Regions from separate parts of the Homo sapiens genome. Here region 1 is linked to region 2. Evidence: fine-mapped expression QTL. A gene starts in region 2. The other region holds a variant in brackets. All regions are shown on one strand. Distances are between the middles of the regions. Region 1 overlaps CPNE9 (copine family member 9). Region 2 holds the start of CAMK1 (calcium/calmodulin dependent protein kinase I).

Evidence for each region. PIP is the estimated chance that this variant, and not a neighbour inherited with it, causes the effect.
Region 1: its variant is the best candidate, but not a certain one, in a credible set for the expression of CAMK1 in whole blood (INTERVAL, PIP 0.64).

What each region holds. Positions count from the first base shown.
Region 1 is chr3:9,708,308-9,713,676 of GRCh38, reverse strand. CPNE9 (copine family member 9) reads right to left here. Exons shown (of 21, transcript NM_153635.3): 8 at 1,073-1,136; 9 at 849-952; 10 at 598-702. Among named protein-coding and RNA genes, the nearest start is that of CPNE9, 7.2 kb to the right of the region's middle. The variant T/C (reference allele first, on the strand shown) is at 3,028.
Region 2 is chr3:9,767,307-9,772,675 of GRCh38, reverse strand. It overlaps CAMK1 (calcium/calmodulin dependent protein kinase I), which reads left to right and starts at 2,729. Exons shown (of 12, transcript NM_003656.5): 1 at 2,729-2,844; 2 at 4,895-5,009. The coding sequence starts at 4,927. It also overlaps a transcript of OGG1 not described here. RefSeq lists a silencer at 2,779-2,958.

The DNA.
Region 1 (5,369 bases), 59 kb after region 2:
GCCATCTATTCATCTATCCAACCATCAATCCACTTGTCACTCTACCTATCTTTTTGTATTCCACCTGCTTTTCTATTCATCCTCCTGCCTCCCCAGTCATCCATCAAACTCTCATTTACCAATTTATCACCCACCCATCCATCAGCTCATTCATCCGTTAATCACCCATCACCTGTATATCCACAAACCCACCCATCAGTCCAATTATCCATTCTTCTGCTGTCCATTCATTTATCTGCCCCTCTACCCACCCATCAATTCACTCATATATCCATCCACATACATATCCAACCATTCACCAGTTTACCCATCCAACGATCCATCCATGTATCTGCTTATTCATTTGTTCATCTGCCTTTTCATCTACCCATCCACCTACCATTCCATCCATCAGTCGATCCATCCCTGGATAGTCCACCTATCCATCTGTGTGGCTATCCATCTGCCTGTCCATCCACCCAACCTCATGCCCCAAACTCTGTCTCACTGAGCAGGACCCTCCAACGCTATTATGATACTTCTACTATCATTCTTGGGCCCAGGAACCACACTGGCATGTCCTTGGCTCCTTACTCCCCAGCTTATGCTGGAGCCAACCTGTCATAGTCTCCATTGCACAGAGCCCGCACAGGGATGCTGAAGGGCTGCCACACAGGATTCAGCGTGTTTTTCACAACCTCTGTCTTGTGGCAGATGGTGAACCTGGAGGGGAGTGGGAAGAATTGGTATAATTTATCTCGTGCCCGGGGTAGGACTGAATCCAGATGCTCTCAGAGATTCCTGAGATTCCCCCACTTGTTAAGCACATGGCCCACCCCAGCCTAACAGCCCTGATGGCAGTGACTCACGTGCCATCCTCATTGCTCCTGTAGAACACAAGGAAGGGGTCTGATTTCCCAAAGAAGTCCTTCTTGTCCAGCTTGTTTGCACACAGCTGCATGGTGGCAATGTCCTAGGGATGGATGAAGTTGGGCTGGTGGCACCCCAATTGTCCATAGCCTTCAGACAGTCCATTAAAGGGTTTACGGGGAGAGAAGGGAGCTCCTGGGTCTAGCATGTGGCCCTTACTGACCCGACAATTGCTAAGCTCTTCTGCAGTCAGCAATATGGTCCCACACTTCTTGCCTGGTACACCCCTGGAAGCAGAAAAAGCCTCTTAGTGAGAGGAGGGAGGGTAGGCAACAAGGATTGAGTGGCCAGTCTGGGGTTAGGTGGGCCAGGGGATTCAGTTTGCCATTTACTGACAGTCCCTTGTGTCTTGAGTGCCTTCTGGTGAGGAAGGGCCTCACTTTGACTGGGTGGGGTCTGCAGTCTGGTGAAAAGGGGTTAGAACAGCTTAGGTGAACATCTCACAACAGTAGCATGAGAAAGACATGGGATTTAGAGCCAGTGGATTTTATGATTGTTAAGCTGTGTGACCCTGGGCAAGTTATTTACCCTTCCTCGGCCTTAGTCTTTTTCTCTATGAAATGGGAATCATGATGACTTGTCAGGGCTGTGAACAGATCTGAATGAGTGCATGGAAGGAAAAGCAACTCGTAAGCCTTATAGATATGAGCTGGTTGTAGTCTTCAAAGCTGACTCTGGTTCTTACTATATGCTGGGTGCTGTGATAGATATGAATTGGGCAACTGGCTCTCTCCGGCTCTGCTAGACTGCCCGCAGGGAGCTTTGGGGGCGGGGGTAGGTGGAATGTCAATGCCAATAGGTAAGTAGAGTGGATTGTAGTGATACTGAATGAGGGAGAAGAATTTCTGTCCAGACCCAGGGACAAAAGGGCTAGCTTGTTAGGTCAAAGCTGATGTGCTTTCTGAAGACCATGGAGAGGGAGATTTAAAAGACAAGGGAAACTTTATCCTTTCCTGACCCTAGAAGGAACACTTCCATGTGCTTGAATGGTGCATACGAGAACCCCCATCCCCAGCAGTAAGAGACCTTGTTGATAGGGGCCTGTGAACCCTGATTCCCAAAGGGATCCAAAATGTGGCAGAGAGAAAACTAGGTCAGGAGGGTCCTGGGTTCCAGTCCTGGCTCTAACTTGCTATGTGATTTTCCCTATCCTTAGAATGAGAGTTGAACTATTTCTTTGGCTCCTTTGATCTTTGACTCTTTGTGCTTTGCAAAGAGGGAGTGTGATGAGAATAGGTTCTATTCGCCTACGGCTGGGCGCGATGGCTCACGCCTATAATCCCAGCACTTTGGGAGGCCTAGGCGGGCGGATCACCTGAGGTCGGGAGCTCGAGACCAGCCTGACCAACATGGTGAAACCCCATCTCTTCTAAAACTGCAAAAAAAAAAAAGAAAAAATTAGCTGGGCGTGGTGGCGGGCGCCTGTAATGCCAGCTACTCGGGAGGCTGAGGGAGGAGAATCGCTTGAACCCGGGAAGCAGAGTTTGCAGTGAGCTGAGATCAAGCCCTTGCACTCCAGCCTGGGTGACAGAGTAAGACTCTGTCTCAAAAAAATAAATAAATAATTCGCTTGCACATCCAGGACCAACAAATTGTTGATCCTGTTGCCTCCTCACTGTTCTTTGCCTCTTTGATGTTCTCCCTTACCACCTCATCCATCCAGTGTGAATTCCAGTCAGTGATTATAATAATCATTCCCTTGCATCCTGTCTCTTTTTTCCCTTCTCTCACTTTTTTTTAAGAGTTGGGGTCTCACTATTACCCAGGCTGGAGTACAGTGGCACAATCATAGCTCACTGCAGCCTCAAATTCCTGGACTCAAGAGATCCTCCCACATCAGCCTCTCAAGTAGCCGAGACTACAAGTGCACACACTACACCTGGCTAATTTTAAAATTTTTACTTTTTTAGAGACAAGGTCTGGCTATGTTACCCAGACTGGTCTTGAACTCCTGGCCTCAAGAGATCCTCCTGCCTCAGCCTCCCAAAGTGCTTTGATTACAGGCGTGAGCCACTGGCCCAATCTTTTCTCTCACTTTCGATATATTTACTTGGCAGAACCACAGCTCTAGTTAAGCCTCACTCTGCCTAACCCACACTGCACCTGTGAAACTGAACA[T/C]GGCCAGACAAAAACACAATTATGCGAACTTGTCTCATTTCAAATGCATGATGCAGACTTCAAGAGGGTCCTTATTGCTACCTCAGAGTCATACTGTACATCCCAAGGCCCTTCACTCTCCAGTTCTGGTAGATGGCAGTTTCACTCCTTCTTTCTCCTCAACCCCTAAAGCCTCCTCCCCCATCCTCATTCTCAGCCAATGACCTTGTTTCCTACTCACTGAACAAAATTGAAGCAACCAGAAGAGAATGTCCACCCACCACCACACCTACCTTGCCACCAGTATCTTCACCCACACAAGTGTGACTCCTACAGTTGCTATAAATGAAGTGTCTTTGTGCCTATTTATCCCTCCACTGTGTACTATATTTCATACTGTCTTGTCTGCACGAGAACATCACTTCAGTAATGCTCACCTCTTTTTATTACATCAAGTTTTCAGTTTCTACTTGGTCATTCCCATCAATATGTAAATGTAGTATAATTTTCCCTTTTTTTTTGTAGAGATGGAGTCTCACTATGTTGCCCAGGCTGATCCTGAACTGGGCTCAAGTGATTCTCTCACCTCAGCCTCCAGAGTAGCTGGGATTACACTATGCCCGGCCAATGTAGTATAATTTATCTCATGTTAAATTTTTTTTTTCTTTTTTTTTTTTTTTTGAGATGGAGTCTTGCTTTGTCGCCCAGGCTGGAGTGCAATGGTGTGATCTCGGCTCACTGCAACCTTTGCCACCTGGGTTCAAGTGATTCTCCTGCCTCATCCTCCCTAGTAGCTGGGATTACAGGCACGCTCCACCATGCCCAGTTAATTTTTGTATTTTTAGTAGAGACAGAGTTTCGCCATGTTGGCCAGGCTGGTCTTGAACTCCTGACCTCAGGTGATACACCTGCCTCCACCTTTAGGAGGCCTCGGCCTCCTAAAGTGCTCGGATTACAGGTGTGAGCCACCTCACCCAGCCTTATGTTAAAAAATTATAAACTTGGCTAGGCGTGGCAGCTCACGTCTGTAATCCCAGCACTTTGGGAGGCCAAGGTGGGTGGATCACGAGGTAAGGCGTTCAAGACCAGCCTGGCCACGGTGGCGAAACCCCGTCTCTACTAAAAACTACAAAAATTGGCTGGGCGCGGTGGCAGGCGCCTGTAATCCAAGCTACTCGGGAGGCTGAGGCAGGAGAATCGCTTGAACCCGGGCAGCAGAGGTTGCAGTGGGCCAAGATCACACCACACCACTGCACTCCAGCCTGGGCGACAGAGTGAGACTCTGTCTCAAAAAAAAAAAAAAAAATTATAAACTTATTCTTGACCTCTCTTCCTGCTTCAGCCACATCTCTTTTTCTTTTCTTTTCTTTCTTTTTTCTTTGTTTTTTTTTTTTTGAGATGGAGTCTCCCTCTGTTGCCCAGGCTGGAGTGCAGTAGCGTGATCTCGGCTCACTGCAACCTCCGCCTCCCGGGTTCAGGCGATTTTACTGCCTCAGCCTTCTGAGTAGCTGGGATTACAAGCGTGCGCCACCACTCCCAGCTAAGTTTTTTGTATTTTTAGTAGAGATGGGATTTCACTATTTTGGCCAGGCTGGTCTGGAACTCTGGACCTCAAGTGAGCCACCCACCTCGGCCTCCCAAAGTGCTGGGATTACAGGTGTGAACCACCGCCCCTGGTCACACATCTTTTCTTTTCTCCCCTTTGCTGTAAAACTCCTTGAAAGTTTCCTTGACTTGGGCCGGGTGCGGTGGCTCACGCCTGTAATCCCAGTACTTTGGGAGGCCGAGGCGGGCGGATCATGAGGTCAGGAGATCGAGACCAACCTGGCTAACACGGTGAAACCCCATCTCTACTAAAAATACAAAAAAAATTAGCCGGGCATGGTGGCGGGTGCCTGTAGTCCCAGCTACTCCGGAGGCTGAGGCAGGAGAATGGCGTGAACCCGGGAGGCGGAGCTTGCAGTGAGCCGAGATCTCCCCACTGCACTCCAGCTGGGTGACAGAGCGAGACTCCGTCTCAAAAAAAAGATTCCTTGACTCCTTTCCCGCTCTTCCATTGTCTTCACCTCCACCTCTCCTTCAAAACTGTGCTTAAGAGTCAACAGGGATTTTCATCTTGCTAAATGCAATGGCCAATTCCCAATCTTCATCTTATTTGAGCTGTAGCAGCATTTGATGTGGTTGGTAACTCTCTCCTTCTTGATAACCCTTCTCTTTGCTTCCATGACATCACCCTCTCTTGGTTCTTCTCCTACTTCATTAATTGCTCCTTCTCAGTCTTCTTTTCTAGGTCCAATTTGTGGAGCCTTGGCCTTTGGTTCTCTCTCTCTCGTCTCCCTCTTTCTCTCTTTTTCTCCCGTCCT
Region 2 (5,369 bases):
ATGTCACTCTATCACTCAAGCAGAGCCAGAGTCCTTCCCTGAGAATGAGATAGGAAATTGGGAGGATGCTTTCCTTCCACTGTGTTTAATTGGAAAGCTGGGGCTGCCTCACTCCATGTTTCCTGCCAACTAGAAGTTCACTCTGGAGAGAAAAAGAGGCCAACGTGTGAAGAAAAATCAAGACAAGGAGAGAGGAGGGAAGACAGAGAAAGCAAATCCTATGAGTACTACATCTCCAGTTCCAGTCTCCAAGCCCCTAATCTCTGGTGTTTTTCCTGCAATCTTGTGCCAGCTATTGTGAACTATAGATTCCTCTTGGATGAAGCTGGTTTAGGTTGGCATTCTGTCACTTGGGAAGCGAAAGAATCTCATCAGTTAGTCTGTGTGTGTTTTCAATACATTATGGAATTTTCCTGCAATGACCATGTATCACTTGTTCAATAGAAATACTAAGAAAGTAAAGATAATGTGTTTGTTAAAGAAAAGAAAACACGAGGCCTCTCAGAAATGCTCAAAAGCAGGAAAAATGTAAAGCACACCATAGAAGCTGTACAAGTCAGCTGGGCGCGGTAGCTCATGCCTGTAATTCCAGCACTTTGGGAGGCTGAGGCAGGTGGATCACCTGAGGTCAGGAGTTCGAGACCAGCCTGACCAACATGGTGAAACCCCCATCTCTACTAAAAATACAAAAATTAGTTGGGCGTGTTGGTTCACGCCTGTAGTCCCAGATACTTGGGAGGCTGAGGCAGGAGAATTGCTTGAACCCAGGAGGCGGAGGTTGCAGTGAGGCGAGATGGCACCATTGCACTCCAGCCTGGGCAACAGAGGGAGACTGTCTCAAAAAAAAAAAAAAAAAAAAAAAAAAGAAGTTGTACAAGTCCTCGAAAGGACAGAGGTCATCTTATCACCCAGGGGGTGTTGTCATCAAGATGAACAGGAATTTGTGGTAAAAGAACCCCTAGCTCAGTGGGTGTGCTTGGTGGGTATAGGGGAGAGTGGGGGCTCAGCCCTGAGCAGGAAATGTATTTTTCCATGAACTAAGGAGTCTGAGATACTGAGATTTGGAAGATGGATCCCTTAACCCCTCATCCCTGGCCAAATCAAGTCCTCTCTCTGAGTCTCAGTTTACACTGAGTCTAGCTCTCATGTTTTGAATAGTGTTCTAGGCACTTCATATCATTATATCATAGAATTCTCAGAACTCTGAGTCAATCTTCAATATTCCCATGTTCCCGAGTAAGAAACTGAGGTTCGGAGAGGTAAAGCATGACCAGGATCAGTTAGACTCCAAAGCCTTTCCAGGAACCTCAGCTATCTTCCTCTCTCATCTGTAAGATGGGCATAATAAATTGGCCAGGTGCAGTGGCTCATGCCTGTAATTCCAGAACCTTGGGAAGCTGATTGGGGAGGATTGCTTGAGCCCAGGAGTTTGAGACCAGCCTGGGCAATATAGTGAGATCCCCATCTCTACAAAAAATAAAAAAGCCAGGTGTGGTGGCACGCACCTGTAGTCCCATCTACATGGGAGGCTGAGGTAGGAAGATGACTTGAGCCCAGGAGTTTGAGGCTGCAGTGGGCCGTGATCATGCCATTGCACTCCAGCCTGGGTGACAGAGCAAGACCCTGTCTTAAAAAAAAAAGAAAAAGAAAAAAAGAAGAAGAGAAAGAAAGAAAAAAGAAAGAAAGAAAGAGAAAAAGGAAATGAGCTGGGCATAAGCACTGTTCTCTCCCCATCACCAGCTGGAACATGCAAGAATTCAGGAGTAGGGAGTGGCACTTGGAGGCCCTTGGAGGTGGAGTGGGGTCCCAAGCAACGTGCCTCCTCCGGCTGCCCCCAGTTCAGCCCCATCCCCAATTCCTGCGAGTTGCTCCCCCCGCCCCCTCTTTCCACTCGGCACCAAATTTCTTCCCAAGGAAGGCCTTGAGCAAACCGACCTTTGGCCTCTTGCCTGCCGTCCTAGTTGCAGGCTCTCTCCCCTAACCTGGACCCCAGCCATCAAACTCTGGAGCCCCGCCAGTCACGTGACACCTCGGTCCTTTTTGGCCTGTTTCCTTCAGGATCCCGATTTAACTTCCTCCTCCCCAATTCCCTCTGCCCCCAATACCTCTAGGCACCACCACCCGCTCTGAGGAGCAAGTGTCTGGGGCTGAAGCCTCAGCTCCATCTTGCAGAGGAACCGGGGCCTCAGTCTTCCCACCTGTCAAGTGGGGCCCACACCCTGCGACCACCTCCACTCTCTTCATTGCCTAGTCTTGCCCGGTCCTTCCCCACTCCCTCACTCCCCCATCCCCCACCAGACTCCCGTGCAGTTCCAGGGCCTGTTTCCCTTCAGGGCACGGAGAAGGGAGACAGAGCCCTAAGGGAGGTCGCAGAACTGGTCTGAAAGAAAATCCACCAGGCCACAGGGTGAGTTTGGCCGGCCTCTAGCTTCAGACAGACGGGGTTCGAATCCTGCTTTGCTTCCGACCACCCGCTGATTTGAAAATCATCTCTCCGGGCCTCAGTTGTCCCCTCTGTGAAATGGACCCCGCTTAAGACCAAGGGCGGGAAGCGTCCAGCAGGAGATCTCTGACCAGAAGCAGGGAGATGGCCTCCACCCGTGCCCCTTCCCCAGCCTTGGAGCGGTGCCTCGCCTCCCAATCCCGGGTCCCTCCGCCGCAGGCTCCACCTCCACTGACATCAGAGCCGCAGGCGGGCGGAGAGAGCCGCCGAGCCGAGCCGAGCCCCAGCTCCAGCAAGAGCGCGGGCGGGTGGCCCAGGCACGCAGCGGTGAGGACCGCGGCCACAGCTCGGCGCCAACCACCGCGGGCCTCCCAGCCAGCCCCGCGGCGGGGCAGCCGCAGGTACAGCCGGGCCCCCCATCCCTGCACCCCTGGGCGCTGCGTGGGGGCGGTGGGAGCCCCTAGCCTCTGGGTATCCTTTCCCAAGGAGTGGCCACTGGGCACTCTCCCGGGCGGGCTGGACCCTGAGGGGCAGGGCTGGGCCTTTCTCCACCTCTGTCCCAGGCCCAGCAGGTGCCAGGCGGGCCTATGGGACACTGAGTGGGTAATAGAGAAGGGGGCCTGTGTGAGCGCCTTCAGCTGGGCCTGACTGGAAGGGCGTGGGCATTTGGAGGTATCCATGGGGTGGGGGGGCTTGCGGAGTGTACTGTCTTAGGACAGGCGTGTGGGTCAGACATGGGTGGAGGATCTGGGAATCTGTGTGTTTTTTGTTCCAGAGGGGTGTCCACGTGTTTTGTGTGCTGGTATTTGGCTCTCAGGGTCTTAAGTCAGAGTTAGGAGGGGGTGTACAATTGTGTACTGAGGATGTTTGGAGTTAGGTGTGTAAGGACTTGGGGTTTGGTTTGGAATACAGGAGCTTCCAGGGGATGGGGTAGAGGAGCTGGAGGGTGTAGGGTACGTCTGGTATATGAGGGTGTGTGTGTGTGTGTCTGGGTGTCATCTTGTGTGGGTGCGGGTGGATGTGTGTTTTGGGGTGTAAGAGGGAGCTGGGTGAGGGATGTTTGGATGGACAGGCAGGTGTTCGGGTGCAGGGCTGTCTGGGGCACTGTGTGGTGTGGACATGTGTGCTGATGTCTGGGAGTACATGTATGATCAGGTGTCACGGGATGTGGATACAAGGCGTACTGGATCTGGGAGGCAGGTGTTTGAGTTCAGGGCTGTGGAGGGGGCTTGGTGTGGCATGTCTGCTACAGGGATGTGTGTGGATCTGTGAGGGTTGTATTTGGTAGGCCTCCATGTGGGTTTCAGACTCTGCCTCTAGAGCTTACACTCGAGTCTCCTTTCCTAGAAGATTCTGCCCCTGGATGGGTGGGCAGGGTCCCCTGGGAAAAAGGTCCTGTTCCAGGAGTGGAATCTCACACCAGAGGCCCTAGTCAGGGCACCTTCTCCTCATTCTCCCTTAGAGAAAAAGAGAGAAGGAAAGTGCTCTCCCTGAGGTCACAAAGCATGCTGGGCTCTGTTTTGGCCTCATCTGTGGATGGGTTGGGAGGCTGTGTTCTCTGAATGGGGCCCATTCTGGCTTCATATTGGAAGTACCAGCCAAGGCCATTCGATGGCCTTTGCCCTCAGCAAGCTTAGCTGGGGGCCCCAGGCCAGGTGTCATTAGGGCCTCTGGAGCCAGCCTCTACCTAACTCCAACCTCAGTCTCCCCATTCTTCATCTGATAAATGGGAGAGAACTCCCACCCTCTCCTGCTGGATGAGACAGACCTCAGCAGAGGAAGGGCCAGGCTGGATAGGGTTAGATGGGGCCAGGAAGGGACAGAGTGAGCAGGACCATTTCTCATGCTCCCGGGACCCAGATGGGGAGTCAGGAGGGAGAGGTCTGGGGAGCTCCAGCTGTGGCTGTTGTTGCTGTGGTAACAGTGCAGAAAGAGCTATTTAAAAATGTGGCTGAGATGTTGCTGGAAGCCCAGGCTGCTGGAAACCTGATTTCGGAGAGGCCGGGGAGTCGGGGGAAGGAGGAGGGAAAGGAGACACCCCAGCAATCCCCAGGGTGGGGCGGGGACATCACTGGTTCTGGGGACAGGGGGATCCTCCAGGCTTCTACCAGCTGCTCTGGGGGTTTATCTGTTGTACTGCCAGAAGTCAGGGTTTCCCTAGGTGCTTGGATTTGGATAGGGGGAAAACTGGGAAGAGAACTAGAATAAATGAATGAATGAATGCATGACTTTGTTAAATAAAGAATTTTGCTGCCACTGTGAAAGGTTTTTCTCTAGGCATGAGAATTTGCTGAATGTTGAATAAACAAATGAATGTTTGTTGAATGATTTTGTCAAATGGATGAATCAAGGATGAATAAATGCAGGTTGAATGACTGAATGGGGCCTGCAGTAAATTCCCAGACAGAGGGCTGGGCTCTGCTGAGTCTCCTCCTTCCATTCTCCTTACAGGAGCCCTGGCTGTGGTCGGGGGGCAGTGGGCCATGCTGGGGGCAGTGGAAGGCCCCAGGTGGAAGCAGGCGGAGGACATTAGAGACATCTACGACTTCCGAGATGTTCTGGGCACGTGAGTCCAGGGCAGGATTGGGTGCTGGATGGCTGAGGGAGGCTGAGTCCAGGGTGGGGCTTCCTCTGGTCAATTAATGCTTCCTGTTTCCCACAGCCCAGGCCCTGTGGCAGCACTATCTAGGGCCTAAACTGTCCCCAGCTTTTCACTTCTGGATGACAGTGGGTGGGACACGGGCTGCTCTCCCAATAGCCCTGGGTTCTTGAAGAGAAAGAAGTCGAGAGAATGAAGGTGCCAGTCAGTCCATTTAACTTGCTGCCAAGAGCTAAGTGTTCTAGCCTAGGTTTGGGAACTGAGGCTGGAGATGGCTCTGTTCTTGGTGCTGGGAATGCAGAAATAACTCAAACCTGGTCTCTGCCC